Regions from separate parts of the Homo sapiens genome. Here region 1 is linked to region 2. Evidence: fine-mapped expression QTL. A gene starts in region 2. The other region holds a variant in brackets. All regions are shown on one strand. Distances are between the middles of the regions.

Region 1 (8,323 bases), 130 kb before region 2:
TCTACATGGATGCCCTGAACATGCAATTCTTTCTTCCAAAATAAAACATTAAATAGAGATTTTGCCTCTACATTTTTGACTTAGTGCTAGGATGGATATAATGCTCTAGGCATGGCCTTTTCCTGAAATAACAAAATCAGAAAAGTTACCTACTTTGAGTAAAAAACACCCAACTGCTGATTTTGGTTGGGGCCACCTTAAGGTATCTCTACCCTCAGTGCCTTGTTCTTGGGGCCACGAGGCCCATTCTCCAGGAAGGCAGGTAAAGGCTTGCACTGTGGCCCTCGGGGTTGGGCCTGGGGGCAGGGGGCAGACACCACAGAGGCCCCTCCCCAGCTCCTCGTCAGGAACCCTCGAACCCTGTCTCCATTCCCCTCGCACAGGACTCCCTGCCCTTCCCCTTGCCAGGTAGGGCAGGGACCCCCTGGGGATAAGAGGAGGTTCTTTCAACCACCAGCCACAAATAGCCGCGGCCAGGAGGCCACCCCGGGCCGCCAGGAGCAGGGAGGCTGGGGTCCCTGCGAGGCAGGACCCCTCCTCTCCCGGAAACACTGAACCCGCAGCAAGCCCAGGCCAGAAGCATGCCAGAAAGCGCCAGCCCTGTGCTCCGCGGGAGGATGGAATCACCAGCTCAGTCCTGTCTGCCCACCCTCTAGGCATTTTGCTCTTCCAACCTGACCTACAAACTCTCCTGATAAAAACCCGTGTCATCCAAAAGCACACGAGGGGTCCTCTCACGCAGGGACCCCTTCCCCGAGCCCCCTTCATAAGCCCCCAAGGGCCCTCCCGGTGCCCTCCCCCAGAGTTCTGCGGGCGGCGACCATTGCCCTGGGCGTCTGGAGCGGGTCCGGGACGGGGAGGGGCGGGGCTGGGTGGGATCGGGTCGCCCCCCTCACCCCCACACCGCGCTGCGGTCCCGCGCCCGCGCCGCCGCCAGCCGCTCCCAGCCTCCGCATGGAGGCCCCTGCGGCCGCCGACGCCCCGGTCCCCGCCGAGCTCCCCGCCGCCGCCAAGGACCGGCCCCCATAGCGGCTCCGGGCCCTCGGATGGCGTGACGGCTTGTGGGGCCTGCGGGGTGCGCTGCCCCCGGACCTGCGGGGGGAGGCGGCTGAGCTGGCGGCGCTCGCGGGCCCAGTGGTGAGTGCGGCGTCCTCACGCCCAGCCCGACGCCTCCGGAGCGGCCGCCGCGCAGGGGTGGGCGCGGGCTTCCAGGAGGGAGGGCGGCTGTGAACGCGCCTTGCTTTCCGCGCCTCCGCAGTTTCTTGCGCAGTTGATGATCTTTATAATCAGCCTCGTCAGCTCCATCTTCTGTGGACATCTGGGCAAGGTCGAGCCGGACGCTGTCACGCTCGCCGTCACGGTGGGTGCCTGATTTCGCCCCTGTAGGAGCCGACGGGCGGCCAAGGGTTAGGATTTGAGCGGTGTCCCCAGGCGCTGTGGCTCACGACTGTAATCCCAGCGCTTTGGGAGGCCCAGGTGGGAGGATCGCTTGAGCTCAGGAGTTCGAGACCAGCCTGGGCAGCATAGCAAGACCCCCGTCTCTACTAAAAATACAAAAATTATCCCAGCGTGGTGGCACCGCCTATGGTCCCAGCTACTCGGGAGACTGAAGCAGGAGGATCGCTTAAGCCCAGCAGATCGAGGCTGCAGTGAGCTGAGACCGCACCACTGCACCCCGGCCTTGGCAACAGAGCAAGACCCTGTCTCAAAAACAAACACACAGGGCGGGGCGCGGTGGCTAACGCCTGTAATCCCAGCCAGCACTTTGGGAGGCCGAGGTAGGCGGATCACCTGAGGTCAGGAGTTTGAGACCAGCCTGGCCAACATGGGAAAACGCCGTCTCTACTAAAAATACAAAAATTAGCCGGGTGTGGTGGCACGGGCCTGTAATCCCAGCTACTTGGGAGGCTGAGGCACGAGAACCGCTTGAACCCAGGGGCCTGAGGTTGCAGTGAGCCGGAATTGTGCCACTGCACTCCCGCCTGGGTAACAGAAGGAGACTCCGTCTCAAAAAAAAAAAAAAAAAAAAAAGGAAAGAAAAAAAAATCAGTTTGAATTGTATCATGTCTTATGCATCTTCCTTTACAGGTCTGGGACTGACCTGTGGCTTACCATTACCTGATTAGATTTGGAAGGAGCTCGTGTCAATACTTAGAAAAGTGTAAAACTGAAATAACTGCACTTTTTTCTATTATGAAATTAAATCAGGAGACTTTTAGGTAATTTAGGTTGTTTGCCATTAATTGGATTACACAGTACATTCAGCTCCCACCCTTTCACCCTTGTGGAAAAGCCTCTCCCATGGATTGAAATCACACCTCCTGGGACGTCTGTTCCCTGGCTTTTGTTAGTGATGTGGAAAGTTGTTTCTTCCTGCATTTCATCCAGGCTTTCAGAGAAAGTGGAAAACACTTCTGCTGGTGATGGTAGGCGGCTTTCCCTAGTCTCAGAAAATGTCCCCTGTGTCCCCGTGAGATGGGTACACACCCTAAGAACACGGAGGGCCACCGGAGCTTCTCATTCAGCTACATGGGAGCCAAGACCTTGCCAGGTGGAATCAGTCACACATTTTATTTACAGGTCTGTTATTTGGTGAACGTATTGGATTAAGGGACATTTTTGCTTCCTTTGAAAGTTTAGACTGGGACTCTAGGAAGAGGCATGAAGGCAGAGGAGATTCGTATACATGGCTGCTCCAGTGTCCCCACCGGGAAAGACGAGCTTGGCCTCTACCTTAACAGGATGATGATCTAAGACTGGCAGGGAAATTTCCTGCTGTGTCCCCGCAGGGCCCAGGATTGGGGTCCACCTTTTCTGATTACTGCTTGCCAACCATCACTGCCCCCAGGGTGCTCCCTGGGCTCACTTCTGGGCCATCGGTCACTCCTCCATGTGGATGACATCTAATGGCCAGTCAGCCACCTTGTTCAAGAGGACCTCAGCATCTGGGTGTCCACTCTTCTCCTCTCCCCGCCTCTGCTGTCATCCCTGGGGCTGTGGGCTCGACTCTGTGACCCACAGTCACAGCTTTCATTTTTGAAAGGGATCAAGACCATGTAATTGGCCGAAAATGTCCACACAGGTACAATGACCAGATAGCCACCTACTCTTAACCTAGGATTGGGAAACAGGGGACCTCACCTGGAGACTTCGGGTCTTGTTTTAAGAGCAGGAGGATGCGCTCGGTGTTGACCAAGTCGGCCCAGCAGGGAAAGCAGCACAGCATAAGGATGAGGACCCCTCTCTGAAGTATGATCCCCACGCGCTTGAGGTTCTTGCCTCCAAAGGACTTGAGAAAACAAATGCACTGCTAACAGCATATGCCAGGCAGGCCGAGGCTGGGGGCCTGCGCCACAAGCAACCCCTCCCAGGGGCGCCTGCCCGGCGCCCAGGCAGACCGGTTTCCCATCATCTGCTCCCGCCCTCCCCACCAACAGCTGACAGCATTGGGGGAGCTTCTGAGCCAGGGACAACCAGTGAGCTAGCTGGCCCCTGTGGCATTTTACACGTGTCCTGGGACAATGTGTCCCTGCTCCCAGGAGCTGGGACTGTTAACATGGAGGGTAGAGGTAGCAGAAACTGAAGCTTAAAAGAGAGTTTTCAACATGGGAGGCAGACAGATGCTGCAGGAGAACATGTGCCATGGTAGAAGGTGAAGTTGTGGGGGACTCTGAGGGCCAGGGATACCCGGGGAGGGTGCAGTGGAAGAAAAGCACACACTGTAGGCTGAGAAGGGCAGCTAGCAGGGTGGCAAGAACTTCGGGGGGCGGGAGGTCATGGAGGCCAAGGCAGTGCTCTAGAAAGCAGGGATGGCCAAGTGGATTAAGGACGGCCAAGCGCTCACTTGAGGATTTTGTCATAGGAGGCCGGGAAGAGGCCAGGCCCAGTGG[G/A]CTGGGCAGGAATAAACAAGGCATCAATAGGGGCTGAGTCGGGAGTGCAGGCCAGGCCCGAGTGCAAAGAACACCTTCAAGAAGCTTGGCTTGAAGGAGGCCAGCAGGGAAGGAGGGGTGGTGGTAAGGGAGGGCGATTTTAGGGTATGGGAGACCAGACTGGGAGGAACAAAGGACAAAATGCCCTTGAGCAGGTGGCCCCAGAGGACAGCACTAGTCAAGCTGACTCTGCTGTTTTGTTTTTTTGTGTTTTTTTTGTTTTTGTTTTTTCCTGAGATGAAGTCTTGCTCTATTGCCTAGGCTGGAGTGCAGTGGTGAGATCTCAGCTCACTGCAACCTCCGCCTCCCAGATTCAAGCAATTCTCCCACCTCAACCTCCTGAGTAGCTGGGATTACAGGCGCCCACCACCGTGTCTGGCTAATTTTTGTATTTTTAGTAGAGACGGGGTTTTACCATGTTGGCCAAAATTGTCTTGACAACTTAGCTGACCTACCACTGCCCTTGGCCAAAGGCGGAAGAGCGCAGAGCCCCTTATCAGGAACGGGCTACAGAAATTCCTGTGGTTAGGCATGGCGTGGTGGCTCACACCTGTAATCCCAGCACTTTGGGAGGCTGAGGCGGGCGGATCACCTGAAGTCAGGAGTTCAAGACTAACCTGACCAACATGGCGAAACCCCGTCTCTACTAAAAACACAAAAATTAGCCAGGCATGGTGGTGGGTGCCTGTAATCCCAACTACTTGGGAGGCTGAGGCAGGAGATCTCTTGAAACCGGGAGGCGGAGGTTGCAGTGAGATCTTCTAGGAAGATAATAGACTCATTTTTAAGATAACTGTGAAAACAAAATTTTTTACCTTTGGAAAAATGTTCATAGTATAAAAGGACTAATAAAAATGTGTTTTTTTTTTTTAAATAAAGGAACATTTATTTATAGTCCACCTTGTTCCACGAAGAATTTGAACCAGTTTACACAAATACTTCCCTAAAAGAAGGATAAATAAATAGCTGTTAGAATTGGGTCAAAGAAACATGGGTGGAAAAGCTGGGAGCCAGGGGTGAGTTGGCATGGGATAGGATGGAAACTGTGCTGAGGTTTTATGGAAGCCTTGATTCAGCGGAAGGGCGGGCCTGGGTACTGAGCCTCAGCCACATTCCCCTTGACCTTCAGAAGGCAGACACCATGACATGGAGCGTGGTGTTCTGGGCTGCTTGTCGCCAGAGACAGAGTAGCAATTTTTGTTCTATCTTTTATAAAGTTGTGTGTTGTAAGCGAGAGGTCTAACGTCAGAGCTCAGTTTGATAAAAGCTTGTGACAGCAGAAGCCACGGGGCCCAAGGCCATGGTCCTGCTTTACATGGGTAGACTGAGCCCCGGGGGAGAGTAACACATTTCTCATTTCTCTGTGTTGGGAATATTCAATATCTTCTTTTCTTTTATTTCTTTTTTTTTTTTTTTTTTGAGACAGGATCTTGCCCTGTCACCCAGGCTGGAGTGCAGTGGTGCAATCATAGCTCACTGCAGCCTCAAACCCCTGGGCTCAAGTGATCCTCCCACCTCAGCCTTCTAAGTAGCTAGAACCACAGTTGTGTGCCACCAAGTCCAGCAAAAAAAATTTTTTTTTTTGAGACAGAGTCTCACTCTGTTACCCAGGCTGGAGTGCAGTGACTCACTGCAACCTCCATCTCCTGGGTTCAAACGATTCTCCTGCCTCAGCCTCCTGAGTAGCTGGGACTACAGGCATGTGCCACCGCACCCAGCTAATTTTTGTATTTTTAGTAGAGACAGGGTTTCACCGTATTGGCCAGGCTGGTCTCGAAATCCTGACCTCAGGTGATCCACCTGCCTCAGCCTCCCAGAGTGCTGGGATTACAGGCGTGAGCCACCACACTCGGCCAATGTCCAACTAATTTTTAAAATTTTTGTAAAGATGGGGTCTGGTCATGTTGCCCAGGCTTCAGTATCCTTCCAGCTATTTGAAGCTATCTGTGATTGTTTCCTGCAGTCACCCTGCAGTGTGGTGGAACACAGGAGCCTATTCCTTCTGCCTAACTGTAACTTTGTATCCTTTAACACATCTCTCCCTATCCCCCCCATCCCCCTACACTCCTATGTGACATATTTTTTTTTTTTGAGACAGAGTCTTGCTCTGTTGCCCAGGCTAGAGTGCAGGGGCGCAGTCTTGGCTCACTGCAACCTCTGCCTCCCAGGTTCAAACAATTCTTGTGCCTCAGCTTCCTGAGTAGTTGGGACTACAGGTGCATACCACCACTCCTGGCTAATTTTTGTATTTTCTAGAGATGGGGTTTTGCCATGTTGTCCGGGCTGCTCTTGAACTCCTGGCCTCAAGTGATCTGCCCACCTCGGCCTCCCAAAGTGCTGGGATTACAGGCATGAGCCGCCGTGCCCAGCTCTGTGTGACTTTTTAAAACACAAAACTTCATAAATTAGCATGCTTTACCTTTCTGTTTTCCTGGCAGTCCGAGGGGTTTGGGAGCTTTAGTCATGCCCCTCTGCCCTGGCTGGAATTCAGTGTTGCTGTGTGGGTAAATCCTCATTGTGCCACAGCCCTCCTGGGGCACGGTTAGATGGAGACCCTGGTCTCATGGGGTCCCGCTGGGCAGTACATGTATGGCCTGTCAGTTATGTGGTGGGGCTGGAGTTTGTGTTTATCAAGCCAGAGTCGTGGTCAGTGAAGAAGCTAACTCACCTGGGGCTGCCATCACCAGTAACCGTGAGACCCAGGACGCAAATGAGGGTCTTTCAGCCCCTCGTCCTGAATGCCTCCTGCACCCTACCTGCAGGCTACTCTATGTGCCCTTAATTGTCAGGGACTGGGTGAGGTCTGGTCAAGAGGGTGACACAACTAGTCCTGTTCCTCACTGGAGGACTAAAGCTTGGGATCTGGAGCCAGACTTCCCAGACTTAGGTCACCATCTGAGTAACTTGGGCAAGGGACATACACTTTGTGTAACTCAGGTTACCCAAAACAAAAAATGAGACGAGTTGTCCTAGCACTATGCACATGAGGGGCTTAGGACAGTGCCTGGCACATAGTATGTGCTCAATAAAAGTTTGCTGTTATTATTACTAAATGCACATCCTACTGGCAGATCGGGGCATCACCTTTAGATGTTAACCACAACTTAACTTTATTTATTTTTTATTTTTTTTGAGACAGGGTCTCACTCTGTCACCCAGGCTAGAGTGCAATGGTATGATCTTGGCTTACTGCAACCTCCACCTCCGGGGTTCAAGTGATTCTCCTGCCGCAGCCTCCCGAGTAACTGGGATTACAGGCGCCCGCCACCATGCCCGGCCAATTTTGTATTTTTAGTAGACATGGGGTTTCACCATGTTGGTCAGGCTGGTCTCAAACTCCTGGCCACAAGTGATCTACCTGCCTCGGCCTCCCAAAGTGCTGGGATTACAGACATGAGCCACCGCACCTGGCCCACAATTTAACCTTAAATATAGAAATTATAATGTGCTATACTGTTTAAGAAAAACTAGGTTTAATATTTCCCCAGTTGACACAAGGTGGTTATCATCCTTTAGTTAGAAGGTACACTTTTGTTCAGTAATCAATAAGGATAGATGTAGACACCCATTTGATCTAAAATACAGCATACATCTGTTGAGTTGCCCTTTAGAGACAAGCTTGTTGAGGTTCCTCCATGAAGAGGGAGCTGTCTGATGCGACCCTGAACTGGCGTCGTCCCCTGAAGGTCTGCCACACCAGGTCTGTGGTTCTCTTGCAGGTGGTGAACGTTACTGGGATTGCAGTTGGCACTGGCTTAGCCTCAGCTTATGACACCCTCATGTCTCAGGTGAGGACCACCCTCCCCCACATACCGTTTTTTGACAGTTACCTTTCATAATAGAGACTTTCTAGGACCATCCACCCTATGGGTTTTGTTGCATTTTATTTGTCAAATACAGATGGTCCCTGACTTAGATTTTTAAACTTTGTGATGGTACAACAGTGACACGCGTTCAGTAGCTGCACTTCAAGCCCCTTACAACCATTCTGCTTTCCACTTTCAGTACCGTCCAGTAGATTCCATGAGATAGTCAACACTGTATCACAAATAGGCTTTATCTAAGATTATTTTACTCAGCTGTGGGCTAATGTAAGTGTTCTGAGCACGTTTAAAGTGGGCCAGGCTAAACTGTGATGTTTGGTAGGTTAGATGCATTCAATGCATTTTCAACTCAAGATATTTCTAATTTACAGTTGTGAGGTAGCTAGGTAGCCCATTGTAAGTCATGGAGCATCTTTTTAAAAAAATTATATTTATTTTTGCAGGCGAGGTCTCCCTATGTTGCCTAGGCTGGGCTTGAACTCCCGGGCTCAAGAGATCCTTCTGCCTCAGCCTCCCATGTAGCTGGGACTACTGGAACAAACATCTGTACATAGCTGCTAATGACTGGAA
Region 2 (8,323 bases):
CCTGCAAGAGAGGGAGAAGCTCCGGAGCTGACCAGGCTGTGGCCCGGGGAGGCAGGGCCCTCTCCCCTGTGTCCTCCAGGACTGGGTGCTCGGCCGCTGTCCCAGGGTCTCAGCCAGGACTGTGAAACCTCAGCATCAGGGGCTGCTGCTTCCAGATGGTAAGCAGGTGCCAGGAGGGGCAGCCGAAACACCCAAACACCCAGGCCTCAGGATGAGGGAACTTAAATTCAGAGTAACGTGGTTCGTAAGAAAAAAAGGTTATATCTTAAAAAGGAATAACCAAATGAAATGTACATAATATAAATGAACAAGGCATCCCTATGAGAGGGATTTATTATAAAATAAATTTAATAATAAACTATAGGCCGGGTGCGATGGCTCATGCCTGTAATCCCAGCACTTTGGGAGGCTGAGGCAGGTGGATCACGAGGTCAGGAGATCAAGACCATCCTGGCTAACATGGTGAAACCCCGTTTCTACTAAAAATACAAAAATTAGCCTGGTGTGGTGGCACGTGCCTGTAGTCCCAGCTACTCAGGAGGCTGAAGCAGGAGAATCACTTGAACCTGGGAGGCAGAGGTTGCAGTGAGCCAAGATTGCACCACTGCACTCCAGCCTGGGCGACAGAGCGAGACTCTGTCTCAAGTAATAATAATAATAATAATAATAATCATCATCATCATCATCATCTATAATTCATCAAAAAGTGGTTGTCATCTTTCTCCTTTTCGGAATATGGGAAAATGCACACACTTCATTTCTTCGAAAGCATCTGTAAAGCTCCAACTGTGTCCGGGCACACAAATGCAAATAAAATGCAAATCCCAAATTGTTTCTTGCCTTGCCTTCTAAATTAAAACTGGGCGTTTGTCCGCCTCTGTCCCTGCTGGTCACTGCTGGAGCCGCAGCCATGGGGAGAATCCCCAAACCAAAGCCTGGAAGGTACCCACAGGCACCGTGCACTGTGAGCACTCGTGGCCTAGAGAAGCATGGGGTGTGAGGGCTGGGCATCTTCAGGGTTTCCCTCGGCGGCCCGGGTTTCCCAGCAAGCCCCACCTCCCCAGCCGGAGCCCAGCGCACCTGGACACGTCCGGGTCCTGCCGGAAGAGCAGCAGGATGTGCTGGGTGTTGAGGAAGAGCGCCCAGCAAGGGAGGCAGCAGAGGAGCAGGACCAGCGCGCCCCGCTGCAGGATCACGCCCACGTGCTTCTTGTTGGGGCTGCCGAAGCTCTGCAAAACAGCCCGCCCCGCGTCAGCCGTTTCCACTGCCCGGGACATTCCTAAATCCCGCGCGGGGAGCGGGCTGTCAGCGGCGCCAGCGGTGTGTGGCGGACCCGGCGGCCTCTGGTGACCACAGCCTGGCGCCCGCAGCCTGTAATGGCACAGCGGCCTTCCTGAGCCTGGGCCTACCACTGTCTCCACTGTTCTTCCAAAGCTCCAAGGAGGACGAAGGCACATGGGGCTTCATCACATGTCAGCGGCAGGTTAAGTGGAGCCAGGACAAAGCCCAGGTCCACCGTGAAGCTAAAACCCCCAGGGAGAGGTGAGGCCTTGCCGCTTTGTGACCCCATGGCCACCTGGGCAGCCCCTGCTGGACTGCAGGCCCCTGCAAGCAGGGAGGTTCCTTCTGTGTCCCCTTGGCCTTCGACACATGCCTGCATGTAGGCAGCCGAACTTAGGATTGAGGCTGGGGAACCGGTTGTCTTTCTCTACTTGGTGACCTCCTCTGGGGGCAAGAGATCAGAGAACTGTCTCCACCATCTCCACCCCTTTCTCCTGGCCCAGACTCTTTCAAAGGGGAGGGTCTGTTTCCCTGACAGCCTGTGGTCCTTGGAGGTAGGGCAGGGGCAGCTGACCCCAGGGCCCATTGCTCCCAGATCACCTGGCTGCGCCCCTCCCACCTGCCATCTCCATGGCACCTGTGGAATTGGCTCTGCCCTTGCCTGGCTTCCTGCCCAGCTCCAGGAGGCCACCCACCTGAGACATCAAGGTGTCACATGCCGAAGACAAACCAACTCCTACAGAAACTCCGCAGACATTGACAAACTGGCGCCACACACAGGAGGAAACAAGAGCTTGTCAGGTGAGGCCTGAAGAGAGGCCCCTGCATCTGGGCTGAGCCAGGGTCAGGAAATGCTGCCCAGCAGGCAGCGGTGGCAGAGGCTCTGCTCAGCAGCCTCATGTGCTGTGTGCCCCAGGGCCAGACCGCCTCCATCTCCGGCCCTCAGGTTCCACCTGTGAAGGCAGCTGTCCAGCCACGTGGGCTGTGTCTTCCCATCCCTGACCAGCCACCCAAGACGGGCCCACCCGGGAACCCGGTGGAGAAGCCTGGGGAGAGAACGTCCCTGCTCTGGGCCAAGCTGGGTACTCACGGCCACCGCGAGGGTCACCGATGCCAGCTCCACCTTGCCCAGGTGCCCGCAGAACACAGTGCTCACGATGTAGATCATAAAAGTCAGCACCTGGAACAGGAACTGGAGGACAGCGGCCAGGTCAGACTCGGGGCCACAGGTGCCCACACAGCCGAGCCCTGCAAGACAGGCCTCTCCAGCTTTGAGGGCCCCGCACCAGTGCCCCGAGAGGTCACCTACGCCTGGGGAAGCCAGGGCTGGAGGTCGGATGACCTAGCCCAGCTCCCATTCTGCGTTCTGCAGCTGCAGTCACGCCTGGCCTCCACGTCCCTACCCAGAAGGGTCAGTGCCTGGCGCAGCGCAGTGCCTGGCGCCCTGAGCTTGACCCAAGTGTCTGATACTGCTATTGCAGTTCCTATTATAACAATAATTTGGTCAGGCCGCACACCCCCAAAAAAGGAGGGGAATTAAATACACCAAAATCTTAGTAATGGCTATTTCCAAGTACTAGGATTTGAGTTAAATTTCTTTCTTCTTTATATCTTTCATTTTTTTCTAAAAGTTTTACAGGAAGTGCAATTCCATTACTCCTTTTTGGTTTTGTTTTTTTTGTTTTTTTTTTTTTTTTTGAGACGGAGTTTCGCCCTTGTTGCCCAGGCTGGAGTGCAGTGGCGCGATCTCGGCTCACTGCAACCTACCCGTCCCGGGTTCAAGCGATTCTCTGCCTCTCTCTCCCAAGTAGCTGGAATTACAGGCGCCCGCCACCATGCCTGGTTAATTTTTGTATTTTTAGTAGAGTCGGGGGGTTCTCCATGTTGGCCGGGCTGGTCTCCAACTCCTGACCTCAGGTGATCCTCCCTGCTCGGCCTCCCAAAGTGCTGAGATAACAGGCGTGAGGCAGCACGCCCAGCCTATTCCTCTTCATGATCAGAAAAAATAAATGTATTTAAAACAATTTCCCCTTTGGAAATGAAATGGGTAGCCGGCCCCTTCTTCCCCCTGCGAAGGTGCTGCAGGCTTCATGCATCTCTGGGTCCCATTTGTCCTGGAGCCATCTTCCAACTCAGGCTTTTGTGGGTTTCCAGCTGAGGCACACCCACCCCTTCTGTGTGGGGGCTGCCTGCTGCTGAGCAAAGTCAGGCCCCACTGCCACTGGGGATTGTCCAGAGACAGCTTTCAGGAGCCATCCTGCTGTCCCCAGACTCTGGACCTGGCAGTCAACATGGGCAGTTTCTGGGGAAAATGTGAGCACATTTCTGGATCCTGCCTGCAAGGCAGACACCCTCAGCCTCTCAGCTTCCTCCACTCCCTACCTGCCCCCCAGCTCCTCCTCCTTACCAGGGGTCCAGAAAGGGCAAAGAGAGTCCACATCTCAGTCCCAAAGCCTCTGGGAACCAGCCTGCTGAGGGCAGGGCAGCAGCCCCCATGGTCCAGGGCCACTGTGTCCTGGAGGCTGTCCATTCCTGGCCGGGGCACTGGCTACCCTGCACGCCTGAGCGCCTGCACGGCCAGCTTTGTCCAGCGAGCCACCCCCTGCCTGGGCAGCCCGTGTCGGTACAGCCTGGCTGATGAGTAAGGGGCAGGAGGAGGGGCTACCATGGCAACTTGTGGGATGAGCCCTGCCTCCTAGGGCACTGAGTCCCTGCTGCCAAGCCTACTGCCTCAGCCACTAGGGAGGACAGGTTCCTGGGAGTCACCCAGACCGCTGCCTGTTGTGTCTGGTCTCCCAGAGGGATTGGCAGTAAGGCCTCAGCAGGAGAAGGTCCAGGGCTGCCTGCAGTGGCTGTGGGAGGTGTGCTGAGGCCAGGACAGGGCAGCCTGGCTGGGGCAGCTGAGCCACTGGGCGTCCTGTACCCGGGCGTGATGGTGCCCACAGTGACTCCCGTTTTTCAGAAGAATTGGTGGCCTGCCCGAAGTCACAGAGCAGGTGGTGGCAGAGCCTGAACAGCCCTCAGCCCTGCTTTTCCCTGGGAGGGGTGGCTTCCCAAGAGACAGGGGCCTGGCAAACCCCATGGCAGTGCGGTCCCTAGCCTTTCATGCTGGAGGGGCCTGGGCCTGGGCCTGGGGATAGGGATGGGAGCTAGGACACCTCGGCGGAGTCCCAAGCCCCCCACTGCCCGTCACCCCTTTCAGCAGCATATCTGAGAGCCAGGGGTGGCAGTGCTTGGGAAAGCAGCTCACTATGCACGCCAGTCACTGTGCCCAGCAAGGCTGTGACTCGACGTCCCACAGGGTCCTCTGTCACCTTCCCAAATTGCCCTCTCTGCTTTTCCTTGCAGGGATGGCCTGTGACTCCCCCCTCAACCTGCCTCAAGACCAGCAGGGCAGTGGGAACCAAGAGAGGCATCTAAGGATTGCACCGGTCACCTAGCCCAGTCCTGGATCAAGCTTTTGGGTGTGGTTCAGCCCAGGAGAAGGAGGAGTGAGCGAGGGGGGCAGGAAGACAGCAGGCAGGCTGGCCAGTGGCTGTGGGAGGGCTGAAGACATCCCAAAGGCCCCACTTGGTTCCCATGTCCACCCCTGCAGCGGAGGAGTGGCCGGCAGGATTCCGAGATGCAGCCCCCAGAGCCGCGAGGAGGAAGGAGCAGACCCTGAAGGAGAGGAGGCAGGACAAATACAAAAAAAAAAAAAGGGTTTGCTACACCCATGGGCGGCCCCAAACACAGGCACAGCCCCACCCCAGTCAACACGCAGCCTTCTTTTTTGACACAGAATTCTGAAACGCTCCACTGGATCCTCCCAGGATCACCTGGGAGGTCACATTCCTGCCCTTGTTCTGATGGTTCTTATCACAGCACTCTCCAACCTGTGCACCAAATAGTACCTTTACCACCTGCCTAGAGGAAAGAAGACATTTTATCACCATCGTGATTGTGATGATGACACCAAACAGGAGGAAGTACAGGTGAAAGCTACAGCCCTGCAGGCCAGGCTATTGCTAGTATGTCTGACTTCCCTCCTCCAACACCTTCTCCACGTCCTTCTCACCTTTGGCCAGTTCTCATGGTCAGCCTACCTCTTCCAAAAGGGCAGCCGCAAATCCTCCTGCATCCAGGGGACCTGGGCCTGGGGTCTCTGTTATGTGAAACCAGCTGCTTCCAGCTGACAGGGCCTCTGGGGAGAGCAGTCACCTGCTGGCCTTGGCCTGTCACCTCCTGTCGCAGCATTGCAGTGAGCCCTGCAGCCAGAAGCAATACTTCTTGGGAGCCCATGGCGATGGGGGTGTTCAGGGAGCCCACACGTGGAGGTATAGGCAGAAGAATCCATCTCACTCCAGGTCACTTTTAATGAGGACAGCTGGTTCCCGTGCCCCCACCAAGCTGGAAGGTGTTCAGTGCAGACGCCCCGCCATCAGCTCGGTGACATCAGGCTTTATCCAGAGCTGACCAGTGTTCAGCACTCAGCTGCACAGGACAAAGGTCGGGTCATCTTCCCGAGGGCCAGTCCTAGGCCGAGCATCTCCAAAATCCCTTCTCAGGAACATTCCCAGGATTTTTGTGATAGAAGCCAATGCATTCCTACATTTTCTTCGGGAAGACACTCTCCTCCTACACTCCTCTCAGAATTTCAATCCCCAGACCCCAGTGGGTTTGACCCTGGGGAGGAGCAAGGGCGATTACTGACTCCACTGCCATGCATTGGCCGCCCCAGGCAAAGGTGGTGCAGGCAGAGTGGGGGGTGGGGGGAAGCCACCTCCTCCAGGTGAGGGGTGTCAGAGCTCCGTGAGTCCTCCATAGTCTCCTGGCAATGCCTTCAGGCCCTCCTTTTGTGGTGGTAACTGCAGACTCAGCAGCACCGCCCTGCAGCCACCTGCAGACTCAGCTCCGAGTTGGGTTTTCCAGGATTCTGCCCCGGAACCTGAGATACTTTGAGCGGAGCTGCACATGGCCCCTGTGCGCCATCCTGTGGCTGGGGCGGGGGGAGCCTCCGAGACTTCAGCCTCTGCCCTCTCTCCAGAGCTTCCAATGCTGTCAGGAGCAACATGCCACCCTTCAGTCCTGCATCTTCTGTGGTCTCAGATACTGCACACAACAGACGGATCAGCAGCTCACTCTCAGGAACAGGGCTGCCAATCCCCTAGAATATACAAGCAAGTCCGGGCGATGCTGGACCCTTTCCCTTCTCAGCTGATCACTTGTTTCCAAGGCCCTTATTTCCTGGGGCACATGGCCTATGACATTCTCCCGATGCCAGTTGCCGTGTCAGCCACGTTCTCTGATGGAAACAGTAGAAACGAACTGGGATCATGTCAGCAGATGGAAGAAGGGAGGAAGGGGGAGAGGAGATCATTATTGCCAGGTGATACAGAAGAGGGCTGAGCCGCCAGCCTTGAGAAGGGAGACTCTGGACTCTCAGGGTGATTCAGGGAAAGGTGACTCAGCCCAAACACCTTCAGTCCCAGAGGCAAATTCCTGGAAGACTGGGGCAAGAGCCAACCTGAACAAGAATGGAGGTGGAAAGGGTGGGAAGGAGGGAAGCTGTGAGCTACCTGAAGTGGGGCAGGGGGCCCCCCAGAGGATGGGATGCTATGAAAGTGAAAACATGGCTACACACCCTGCCTCATTTATCTATTACCAGCCCCCCCAAAATTGGTGTCTTAAAACCATTATCATCTGTGTCATGAGTCTGTGCGGCGAGTTGGGTGGTCCTTCTGCCTCCCCTAGTCTAGCTGTGTCTGCAGTCACCGGGGACTGGCCCAGGCTGGCCAGTCTTCCAGGCTCATGTCCAGGCCGCGGTGGGTGCCTGCTATCAGCTGAGACTGTCAGTCGGAGCATCTCCACCTCCCCTCATAGGACCTCCTCATGCACCACGGGCATCTCAGCATAAAGTGACCTCCCCGTGCACCACAGGCATCTCAGCATGGAGCGACCTCCCAACGCACCATGGACATCTCAGCATAGAGTGACCTCCCCACGCACCATGGGCATCTCAGCATGGAGCGATCTCCCCGCGCACCACAGGCATCTCAGTATAGAGTGACCTCCCCACGCACCACGGGCATCTCAGCATAGAGTGACCTCCCCATGCACCACGGGTATCTCAGCATGGAGCGACCTCCCCGTGCACCACGGGCATCTCAGCATGGAGTGACCTCCCCACGCACCACGGGCATCTCAGCATGGAGTGACCTCCCCGTGCACCACGGGCATCTCAGCATGGAGCTGGAACAGAAGACAGGACATTCGATGGTGCAAGTGGAAGCTGCATACAGGTCAAGAGCCAGCCTGGGAGGTCCCCATGCCCCTCTGCCTCATCCTGTTGACCACAGCTAATCATGGACTCGCCCAAATTTCACAGGAGAGGGAACAGCCTCCACTTCTAGGTGGGAGTGGCCGAGAGGCCATGCCTTTAACCAGCACTCTCCTCTTCCTCCTTTCTATTCCTCCCTCTCCATTCTCTCTTCTGCTCTCTCTTGTGCCACCCGCTGTCCACACTTGGCCCCGAGCAAGGGCAAGCAGATAAAGACCCCTGAGGTCAGTGATGAGAGGACTCACGCATATCGAGGACCTCTTTGGGGAAGGAGGACCCAAAGCTACAAAATCCTAGGAATGGCAGGAGGCACGGGGAGAGGCAAGGGAGTGGAGAGTCCTGGCAAGCCCCCAGCACACACCCTGGGATTAGGGAGGCTCCCAGCCAGCAAGAGGAAGCTTGACCCAGGGGGAGCTGCTCCCCCAGCCCCAGCAGCCTCGCTGAGGCAGAGCCAAGAGGCATGTGGGCATGCCAGGAAGTCCCCCTCACTTGAGGGCTCAGCTCCTGCAGGCTCGGAGCCTGCTGGGGGCAAGGGCCAGGTCCTTGGGCCCTGCCTTCACGTGACTAATTTCCTGGAGTCCTGCCAAGTACAGTCTGGGTCCAGGGCCTCTGTTAACCTTTTCTCACTTGGTTACACCTCACTGGGCCCAAAGGTGTTGCATTTGCCCTTTGGCTCCCAGAGACATGCACCACAAGGGCTGTGGACCAATGTCCTTTCCTCTA

Direction of the effects. Alleles are on the strand shown, and positions count from the first base shown. SD is a standard deviation of normalised expression in the study named.
As copies of A replace G in region 1, the expression in prostate of the gene that starts at base 3,840 in region 2 goes up (large effect, 1.4 SD a copy in GTEx).

Evidence for each region. PIP is the estimated chance that this variant, and not a neighbour inherited with it, causes the effect.
Region 1: its variant is the best candidate, but not a certain one, in a credible set for the expression of SLC47A2 in prostate (GTEx, PIP 0.67).

The regions. Positions count from the first base shown.
Region 1 is chr17:19,578,976-19,587,298 of GRCh38, forward strand. SLC47A1 (solute carrier family 47 member 1) reads left to right here. Exons shown (of 17, transcript NM_018242.3): 17 at 1-59. It also overlaps the pseudogene SLC47A1P1. Among named protein-coding and RNA genes, the nearest start is that of SNORA59B, 26 kb to the left of the region's middle. The variant G/A (reference allele first, on the strand shown) is at 3,891.
Region 2 is chr17:19,712,745-19,721,067 of GRCh38, forward strand. It overlaps SLC47A2 (solute carrier family 47 member 2), which reads right to left and starts at 3,840. Exons shown (of 17, transcript NM_001099646.3): 1 at 3,689-3,840; 2 at 2,372-2,473; 3 at 1,977-2,045; 4 at 1,081-1,229; 5 at 1. The coding sequence starts at 3,811. LOC124903948 (a long non-coding RNA gene) reads left to right here and starts at 1,602. Exons shown (of 2, transcript XR_007065659.1): 1 at 1,602-2,491; 2 at 4,630-8,323. RefSeq lists enhancers at 3,318-4,167, 4,168-5,015.